3 linked regions of the Homo sapiens genome follow. The protein of the gene in region 1 interacts with the protein of each later gene in a pairwise test. Each region holds a gene or a part of one and is shown in the gene's direction. Other genes may lie near its edges.

What was found.
Region 2: the proteins of ATXN1 (region 1) and METTL17 interact in binary tests that used the Homo sapiens proteins (3 or more experiments, as listed by UniProt).
Region 3: the proteins of ATXN1 (region 1) and ZBTB43 interact in binary tests that used the Homo sapiens proteins (3 or more experiments, as listed by UniProt).

The regions. Positions count from the first base shown.
Region 1 is NC_000006.12:16,324,379-16,328,035, reverse strand, and holds part of ATXN1 (ataxin-1), read left to right. Parts: coding exon 1-1,642; intron 1,643-3,657. UniProt on the Homo sapiens protein: Chromatin-binding factor that repress Notch signaling in the absence of Notch intracellular domain by acting as a CBF1 corepressor. Binds to the HEY promoter and might assist, along with NCOR2, RBPJ-mediated repression. Binds RNA in vitro.
Region 2 is NC_000014.9:20,992,910-20,995,344, forward strand, and holds part of METTL17 (ribosome assembly protein METTL17, mitochondrial isoform 2 precursor), read left to right. Parts: intron 1-208; coding exon 209-282; intron 283-1,059; coding exon 1,060-1,154; intron 1,155-1,633; coding exon 1,634-1,704; intron 1,705-1,884; coding exon 1,885-1,992; intron 1,993-2,255; coding exon 2,256-2,324; intron 2,325-2,435. UniProt on the Homo sapiens protein: Mitochondrial ribosome (mitoribosome) assembly factor. Binds at the interface of the head and body domains of the mitochondrial small ribosomal subunit (mt-SSU), occluding the mRNA channel and preventing compaction of the head domain towards the body.
Region 3 is NC_000009.12:126,811,540-126,815,196, forward strand, and holds part of ZBTB43 (zinc finger and BTB domain-containing protein 43), read left to right. Parts: intron 1-3,657. UniProt on the Homo sapiens protein: May be involved in transcriptional regulation.

The DNA.
Region 1 (3,657 bases):
TCCCAGGTCTGTCCCCGTGGCCACCACGCTGCCTGCCGCGTACGCCACCCCGCAGCCAGGGACCCCGGTGTCCCCCGTGCAGTACGCTCACCTGCCGCACACCTTCCAGTTCATTGGGTCCTCCCAATACAGTGGAACCTATGCCAGCTTCATCCCATCACAGCTGATCCCCCCAACCGCCAACCCCGTCACCAGTGCAGTGGCCTCGGCCGCAGGGGCCACCACTCCATCCCAGCGCTCCCAGCTGGAGGCCTATTCCACTCTGCTGGCCAACATGGGCAGTCTGAGCCAGACGCCGGGACACAAGGCTGAGCAGCAGCAGCAGCAGCAGCAGCAGCAGCAGCAGCAGCATCAGCATCAGCAGCAGCAGCAGCAGCAGCAGCAGCAGCAGCAGCAGCAGCACCTCAGCAGGGCTCCGGGGCTCATCACCCCGGGGTCCCCCCCACCAGCCCAGCAGAACCAGTACGTCCACATTTCCAGTTCTCCGCAGAACACCGGCCGCACCGCCTCTCCTCCGGCCATCCCCGTCCACCTCCACCCCCACCAGACGATGATCCCACACACGCTCACCCTGGGGCCCCCCTCCCAGGTCGTCATGCAATACGCCGACTCCGGCAGCCACTTTGTCCCTCGGGAGGCCACCAAGAAAGCTGAGAGCAGCCGGCTGCAGCAGGCCATCCAGGCCAAGGAGGTCCTGAACGGTGAGATGGAGAAGAGCCGGCGGTACGGGGCCCCGTCCTCAGCCGACCTGGGCCTGGGCAAGGCAGGCGGCAAGTCGGTTCCTCACCCGTACGAGTCCAGGCACGTGGTGGTCCACCCGAGCCCCTCAGACTACAGCAGTCGTGATCCTTCGGGGGTCCGGGCCTCTGTGATGGTCCTGCCCAACAGCAACACGCCCGCAGCTGACCTGGAGGTGCAACAGGCCACTCATCGTGAAGCCTCCCCTTCTACCCTCAACGACAAAAGTGGCCTGCATTTAGGGAAGCCTGGCCACCGGTCCTACGCGCTCTCACCCCACACGGTCATTCAGACCACACACAGTGCTTCAGAGCCACTCCCGGTGGGACTGCCAGCCACGGCCTTCTACGCAGGGACTCAACCCCCTGTCATCGGCTACCTGAGCGGCCAGCAGCAAGCAATCACCTACGCCGGCAGCCTGCCCCAGCACCTGGTGATCCCCGGCACACAGCCCCTGCTCATCCCGGTCGGCAGCACTGACATGGAAGCGTCGGGGGCAGCCCCGGCCATAGTCACGTCATCCCCCCAGTTTGCTGCAGTGCCTCACACGTTCGTCACCACCGCCCTTCCCAAGAGCGAGAACTTCAACCCTGAGGCCCTGGTCACCCAGGCCGCCTACCCAGCCATGGTGCAGGCCCAGATCCACCTGCCTGTGGTGCAGTCCGTGGCCTCCCCGGCGGCGGCTCCCCCTACGCTGCCTCCCTACTTCATGAAAGGCTCCATCATCCAGTTGGCCAACGGGGAGCTAAAGAAGGTGGAAGACTTAAAAACAGAAGATTTCATCCAGAGTGCAGAGATAAGCAACGACCTGAAGATCGACTCCAGCACCGTAGAGAGGATTGAAGACAGCCATAGCCCGGGCGTGGCCGTGATACAGTTCGCCGTCGGGGAGCACCGAGCCCAGGTAACGTTAGCCAGGGTGGCACAGGGATGGGACACCACACCGTGATGCCATCATCATCTCCTGGCAAGACGAATTGCTTCTATGAGGCAGGATTAAGGGTTCTCGGGTACACCTAGACCTTAGACTCGGCCTTTCCCAACTGCGTTCTCTAGAAAAAATAAGCCCCATTTCCCCGTGATCTCTGCTGTGTGTAATGAATTAACCTCCATGCATGGAGAGTGGGGCTAGTTATGGAGTCCTTGAGACAATCCAGAAACTCACCACTCTAGTTATTTTTTGAATTCTGTGATTAAGATGAGGAACCCTGATTAGGAAACGCTGCTGGACTTCAGGTCCTTCTAGTGGTCATTCGGCACTTTTTCTTACCAGGAAAAGACAGAGGATGCCGTTGGAGTGAGGGGATTAGATGCTAAAGCAATCATATCCCATTGCAACATCCATGTTTTAAAATATGTCTTATTAGCTGGGTACAGTGGTATATGCCTTCGGTCCCAGCTACTCCAGAGACTGAGGCAGGAGGATCACTTGAGCCCAGGAGTTCGAGGCTGTAGTGAGCTATGGCTGAACCTGTGACTATCACTGCACTCAAGCCTGGGCAACATAGCAAGGCCCGGTCTCCAACATATATATAATGTCTTATTATTTAGGTATGATAAGGCCAACAGATAGATCAGCAGACAACTCTCTTTGACGAGATAATTTTTATACTCTCTGATCCCAAGAGGAAAGGGCACTCTACACCAAGAGGTGTAGAACACCGTAAAGTGGGGGGCACCTGGGGAAGCCCCAGGTGGGTCAGGAGGTGGAGGGAGTGAGGGGAAATGTGGCAAACAACAGCCTTTATTGTGGTTTCATGGGAGGCAGGGTAAACGGGTTTAGGATTGGTTAGAGTGGATAATTCCAGTGTGCTCTGGGGTGTAGGGGCTGTCCTTAGTTGTCTGGCTGCTGGTGCTGGGGTGATCAATACAGGTGGAAGGGCTGGGCACAGTGGCTCACACCTGTAATCCCAGCACTTTGGGAGGCTGAGGCGGGTGGATCACCAGAGGTCAGGAGTTCGAGACCGGCCTGGCCAACATGGTGAAACCCTGTCTCTACTAAAAATACAAAAATTAGCCGGGCATGGTGGTGTGTGCCTGTAATCCCAGCTACTCCAGAGGCTGAGGTAGGAGAATTGCATGAACCCGGGAGGTGGGGATTGCAGTGAGCCGAGATCAGGCCACTGCACTCCAGCCTTGGACACACAGCAAGACTCTGTCTCAGACAAAAAAAAAAAAACAGATGGAAGGCAGCCCTAAGTGTGATGGACCAATATAGGAGGCTGCTGGGGAGTGGGCTCTGGACTGGTTAGTTTGCATATGAAAGTCAGGCTCCTAGGAATTAGCTCTGGACTGGTTGGTTTGCATATAAAAGTCAGGCCTCTAGGAATTAGCTAATCCTAGGAGAGACTATACCTCTGGGATCCACAAGACACTAAAATATCAAAGCATCAGAAAATAAAAGCGTGGTTAATACAATCTGAGAAGTCAGGGCTGTCCCAGGTGACCTGCTGGGCTTGGGGTAAAGTCAGCTGTAGCCAAGATGAGTCACTGGAAGTATGGTTAACGCTCTTAATTTCCACAGGCTCCTTCAATCTACCCTTTTCCAGGTTCTTAGATCGATTACATGCATTTATTCCACAGCCCATTTCTTTCACTGCCCAAGTTGCTGGGAGTCCAGCAGGTTCAGCCTGCAGCTGAGAGCTTTCCTGGCTATCGAGCGTACTTTCTACAAGTGTTTCCATCTAGGATTTGAAAACATTCAAATGGGACAGAGCCTCCTTCCAGCTTGAGTTGAAAATAGTCATGAAATAGCTGCTATTTGGGACATTCAGATAAAATAAAACAAGAAAAAAAAGATAAACTAATTAATGGTTTGAATTGTTTTGGGCATTTTTTTTTTTCATTTTTGAGACAGTGTTTCTTGTCTCCTAGGCTGGAATGCAGTGGTGCAATCATAGCTCACTGTGGCCTTGACCT
Region 2 (2,435 bases), on another chromosome or scaffold:
GTTCTCTTTATCCTGTGAAAGCTTTCTGTGACCCAAGAAAGGTTTAGAATCACTATTTTAGGAGATTCTTATCCCATAAGGTATTTGTATTGAATCTCAAAAGGCATTCACATCTCACATCCTCTGTGATAGCCTCCTAATTCACATTTATCAAGGTCCTAAATAAGTATCTAATTACCCTACTGTGGGATGTTGTATATTTCTTCAGATCCGGGCTCGAAATCCAGCATTTCAGCCACAAACTTTGATGGACTTTGGCTCAGGTACTGGTTCTGTCACCTGGTGAGTAACTTTCTTCAGCCCTATCTTGGTCAATTTTAGCTCTAGAAAGCCATACTTACACCACTCCAAAATTAACAGACTGGAAAACCAGAGGGAGAATAGGCAAGTTGGGAATCTATAATGTTTCTTCCATCAGATTAGGCAAGGCAGAAGAAGGTATATGGATTGGGGCCAGAACTTAAAAGAAATGTCAAGTAAAAAAAGGCGCATGTGTAGAAAAATTAAAAAGAAAAGGAATTATCAATCAAAGTTGTTTTTGCCTACAAATAGTATTTTGAGTCTACCTTTTTTTTTTCTTTTTTGAAACGGTGTCTCACTCTGTCGCCCAGGCTGGAGTGCAGTGGCACAATCTCGGCTCACTGCAGCCTCCACTCCTGGGTTCAAGTGATTCTCCTGCCTCACCCTCCCGAGTAGCTGGGACTACAGGTGCACGCCACCACACCCAGCTAATTTTTGTATTTTTAGTAGAGACGGGGTTTCACCATATTGGCCAGGCTGGTCTCTAACTCCTGACCTTGTGATCCGCCCACCTTGGCCTCCCAAAGTGCTGGGATTACAAGCATGAGCCACTGTGCCCAGCTGAGTCTACCTTTTTTTTTTTAGGAGTTGTAAATAAAACAAGAAAATAACACTATTAGTTATTTTATTACTAACTATACAACTACTTTAACATAACACTCTCTTTTCCCAGGGGTGGGGTTGGGTGTAAATGGGCCTCTTGTAGAGATGACTCTTGGTCATGGGAATTGGTGATTTATAATAATTTTGCCATCTTAGGGCTGCTCACAGTATTTGGGGCCAGAGCCTACGTGAATATATGTGTGTGGACAGATCAGCTGCCATGTTGGTTTTGGCAGAAAAACTACTGAAAGGTGAGTGCAAGAGCACTTCCAAAGTTGAGGGAGTTAAGAAAGCAAAGGGGTACTAGTAAAAGTGTTTTACTGGGAAGTAGAGAAGAGGGTAAAAATTAAGATGAATCTGGTTTACTTTTAAAGTTATAGTCAAGCAAAGGGTGGTATTAGAGGTTTCTGCTGGACTGAGGATGGGTTGGGTAAGAATCAAAGGACAGGAGGCCTAATATTCTCCCTGCCCTTTTTTTTTTTTTTTTAATTAGAGGTAGGGTCTCCATATGTTACCCAGGCTGGTCTCAAACTCCTGGCCTCAAGCCATCCTCCCACTTCAGCCTCTAGGGTAGCTGGGATTACAGGCACGCACCGCCATACCTGGCTCATCCCTGCCCTTTTTGATATACACTTTACCTATTCTTGGGGCCATGTTTCTTATCTGGATATCTCTTCAGTTTATACCTAACTTCCTACACACTCACAGTTGCCTCTTCTTTTCTCCACAGGTGGTTCAGAATCTGGGGAGCCTTATATTCCAGGTGTCTTTTTCAGACAGTTTCTACCTGTATCACCCAAGGCAAGTGGCAGTGTTTAGAATATTCTAAATGTGGAATGTGGCAGATGGAAAACTATGGCTTGAGCTTTGCAGCCCAGCACTGAGTGTTAGAAGATAAAAGAAATTTAGCGGCTAGGACTTTGTTGTATTCTTGGGATGTAGAGATGTTGAGTCTGTCATGTTCCTTGTCTTGGTCCTCAGGTGCAGTTTGATGTAGTAGTGTCAGCTTTTTCCTTAAGTGAACTGCCCAGCAAGGCTGACCGCACTGAGGTAGTTCAAACCTTATGGCGTAAGACAGGTCATTTCCTGGTGAGTTAAAATTCCTTGTTCTCCTTAAGTCTTGAAGCAGCTTCATGGATTTCATGCCTTTGCTCCTCTCATTGTCTTTATTCTTCACCATTTTTCTCCTTCATGGGTTTCTTTATCCCTCTTTGAGGGTCTCCATCCTGATTATGTAATGCCTATTTCTTTTTAGGACTCCTTCTCCCTCTATGATTGCTCTTACACAGCTACTGACATTTATACTTTCGTGTAATTCAAGTCTTCTGCATATTTTCCCCTTTTGTGAACAGGTACTGGTGGAGAATGGAACAAAAGCTGGGCACAGCCTTCTCATGGATGCCAGGGATCTGGTCCTTAAGGTAAGGCTTCTTCTTCCCTCACTCCCCCACCCATATGGCACCAATTACTGTTACTCTCTTGAAAACGAAAGAGACTGTCATGTATTGACAAGGGTGGCTCTCAGGAAACTG
Region 3 (3,657 bases), on another chromosome or scaffold:
TAATGATGACATTTTCCTAGTCACTCAGTCATGAAATTCAAAGTCGGCATTGGTACATCAGTTTGCCTTGCATTACTCTTTATTTTATTTATTTCTATTTTTTTGGGATGGAGTCTCACTCTGTCGCCCAGGCTGGAGTGCAGTGGGGTAATCTTGGCTCACTGCAGCCTCCGCCTCCTGGGTTCAAGTGATTCTTCTGCCTCAGCCTCCCGAGTAGCTGGGACTACAGGCACCCACCACCACACGCAGCTAATTTTTGTGTTTTTAGTAGAGACGGGGTTTCACCATATTAGTCAGGCTGGTCTCGAACTCCCGACCTTGTGATCCACCCACCTCGGCCTCCCGAAGTGCTGGGATTACAGGCGTGAGCCACCGCACCCGGCCACATTACTCTTTTTTAAACAGCTTTACAGAGACATAATTCATAAGTAATAAAGAGGTTTTTTTTTTGGTATATTCACAGATTTGTATACCCATCACCACAATCTAATTTTAGAACTTTTGTCTCCCCTCAAAGAAACCCAGTTAGCAGTTGCTCCCCATTTCTTCTACCTGTAGCCACGAATCTACTTTCTGTCTCTATGGATTTGTCTATTCTGGACATTTCATATAAGTGGAGTCATACAAGATACGGCCTTTTGTGTCCGACCTCTTTCATTTAGCATAACGTTTTCAAGTGCCAGCCGTGTTGTCACATCTATCAGTATTTCGTTCTTTTTTATTGCCAAACATCCTATTCTAAGGATATATCCTGTTTGTTTATCCAGTCATAAGTTGATGGAGCTTATGATGGTTTTCACTTTTTGGCTTTTAAGAATAATGCAGTTATGAACATTCATGTACGAGTTTTAGTGTGGACATCATATGTTTTCATTTTTCTTGGGTATGTACCTAGGAGAATTGTTGAATTAACGTGGTAACTCTATGTTTAACTCCCTGAGGTGCTGTCACACTGCTTTCCACAGTAGCTGTACCATTTTACATGCCCACCAGCAATGTATGGAGGTTATAATACCTACACATCCTCACCGACACCTGTTATTGTCTGTCTGTCTTTTGACAGCCATTTTAGTGAGTGAAAAGGGATGTTTAGTAGTTTTGATTTGCATTTTTCTAATTACTAATGATGTTGAGTGGTTTTCATATGCTTATAGGTTATTTGTATATCTTCTTTGGAGAAATGTCTCTTCAGATCCTTTATCTGTTTTTCAGTTGGGTTATTTATCTTTTTATTATTGAGTCATAAGAGTTCTTGAGGTATTCTGGATGCAAGTCACTCATTAGTTACATGATCTGCAAATAATTTCTCCTATTCTGTGGGTTGTGTGTTCACTTTCTTGATGGTATCATTTGTACCTTGTACTACTGCTGTATCTTCCTGCTGACCAGTTCTGTCAGTCTCATCAATGCCACCCCTTTTCCATACCCACTGTTACTTTTTTTTTTTTTCTTTTTTTTGAGATGTAGTTTTGCTCTTGTTGCCCAGGCTGGAGTGCTTTGGCATGATCTCGGCTCACTGCAACCTCCGCCTCCCAGGTTCAAGCAGTTCTGCTGTCTCAGCCTCCCGAATAGCTGGGATAACAGATGTGTGCCACCACGCCCGGCTAACTTTGTATTTTTAGTAGAGACAGGGTTTCACCATGTTGGCCAGGCCGGTCTGGAACTCCTGACTTCGAGTGATCCACGTGCCTCAGCCTCCCAAAATGCTGGGATAAAAGACGTGAGCCACCATGCCTGGCCCCACTGTTACTTTTATTACTACCTAGACTACACTTATTGAAATCCTATAATTAGCTTCTACTTCAGACTTTCTCCTGCTTTAGTCCGTCAGCAGATCAACCTTCCTTAACCATGCCTCACAGCACGTCACTTAGAAGTTTTCAGTGCTGCCCCAATGTAGACGTCTCATTCGGCTTTTTCTAGATTTATCTCCCATCACTCATTGTCACTCATAGAAGGAAGCACAAGTAATGATGTGTGTGTCACCAGGGTTAGTCTTGAGTGAAAGAGAGCCGAGGGAGATCTGAAATGGCTTTCTGATGGTAATTTCACCATAATCTAGGATCTTGCCGTTAGTGTGATTGGACCAATAACTCAGTGTCTTCAACATATCATACTTATGATGTACCAAACCCGCAAGAGATTAAAGTATACAAACCAGAATGCCATGTGATTTATAATTTTTCTTTCTATGTTAATAAGTGAGATTGGCTTGTAGGGTTTTTTTTGTTGTTGGCCAATTTTGATACCAGAGTTTTGTATAAAATTTATGAATTTTCTCCTACCCTATTGCCTTGTCCTCTTCTCCCCCTCTACTTTTTACATTTCTAGTTTTATCATATTGTGTAATCCATTGTATAGTCACATGTAATCAAATGTGCCCTGTGCATTTCCGCTTTGGAGAATTTATTGATGTTCTCTGTAGCCACGTATATTATCATTTTTGTAAATGTCCTACAGACAGTAGAAAAGGAGTATTATTTGTAGAGTATATAGGTATTGCATTAAATTAGCTTTATTGATAGCTGTCTAAACCTATAGATTCTTGTCCTTTGCCTACTTGATTTATTAAGAATTAAAGAGGGATACTTATATTTCCTGCTACAATTACAGTTCTGTTACTGTTGCCTTATTTTCTAACATTGTACTCTGACACATAAAAGTTCACAGAGTAAACTTCATTGTGAATTATAGGTTTCATCAGTTAACAATAAACTTTCATCCTGATTTTTACAGATGAAATTTACATCTGTAAAATTTTTACAGATGAAATTTACATCTGTAAAATGTAAATTTTACATCTGTAAAAATTTTACAGATGAAATTTACAAAGTAAATTTACATTGAAATTTACTTTGATATTAGTATTGTGTTGCTTGACTTTTGTTTTCATGTGACTTTTTTTTTTTTAAACTTTTGACCTTTTTGGTGATAAATTCTTTCAACTTTTCTATGTCTGAAAAAGTATTTTGGGCCGGGCGCGGTGGCTTACGCCTGTAATCCCAACACTTTGGGAGGCCGAGGTGGGCAGATCACGAGGTCAGGAGATCGAGACCATCCTGGCTAACACAGTGAAACACTGTCTCTACTAAAAATACAAAAAATTAGCCGGGCATGGTGGTGGATGCCCGTAGTCCCAGCTACTTGGGAGGCTGAGGCAGGAGAATGGTGTGAACCCAGGAGGCGGAGCTTGTAGTGAGCTGAGATTGCACCACTGTACTCCAGCCTGGGCAACAGAGCAAGACTCTGTCTAAAAAAGAAAGAAAGAAAGAAAGAAAAAGTATTTTGCCTTCACTTTGAAGATACTTTCATGGGTATAGAATTCTAAGTTGACAGGCCTTTCCGCCCCCTCCCCCACCTTCATTTCAGTATTTTAAAATGGTCTCCTGTCTCCTGGCTTGCATTGCTTCTGAGGTTCTCTGTACACAAGGGGCCTTTTTTTTGTCTGGCTGCTTTTAAGATTTTCTCCACTGATTTTAAGTGATTTGATTATGATGTGCCTTGCTGTAGTTTTTTTCATGTTTCTTGTGCTTGGAGTTTGTTGAGCTGCTTAGGTCTGTGAGTTCGTAGTTTTCATCAAATTTGAAAAAGTTTTGGCTGTTGTTTTCACATATGTATAAAATGTATGTGTGTATGTGTGTATTGTTTATATATATA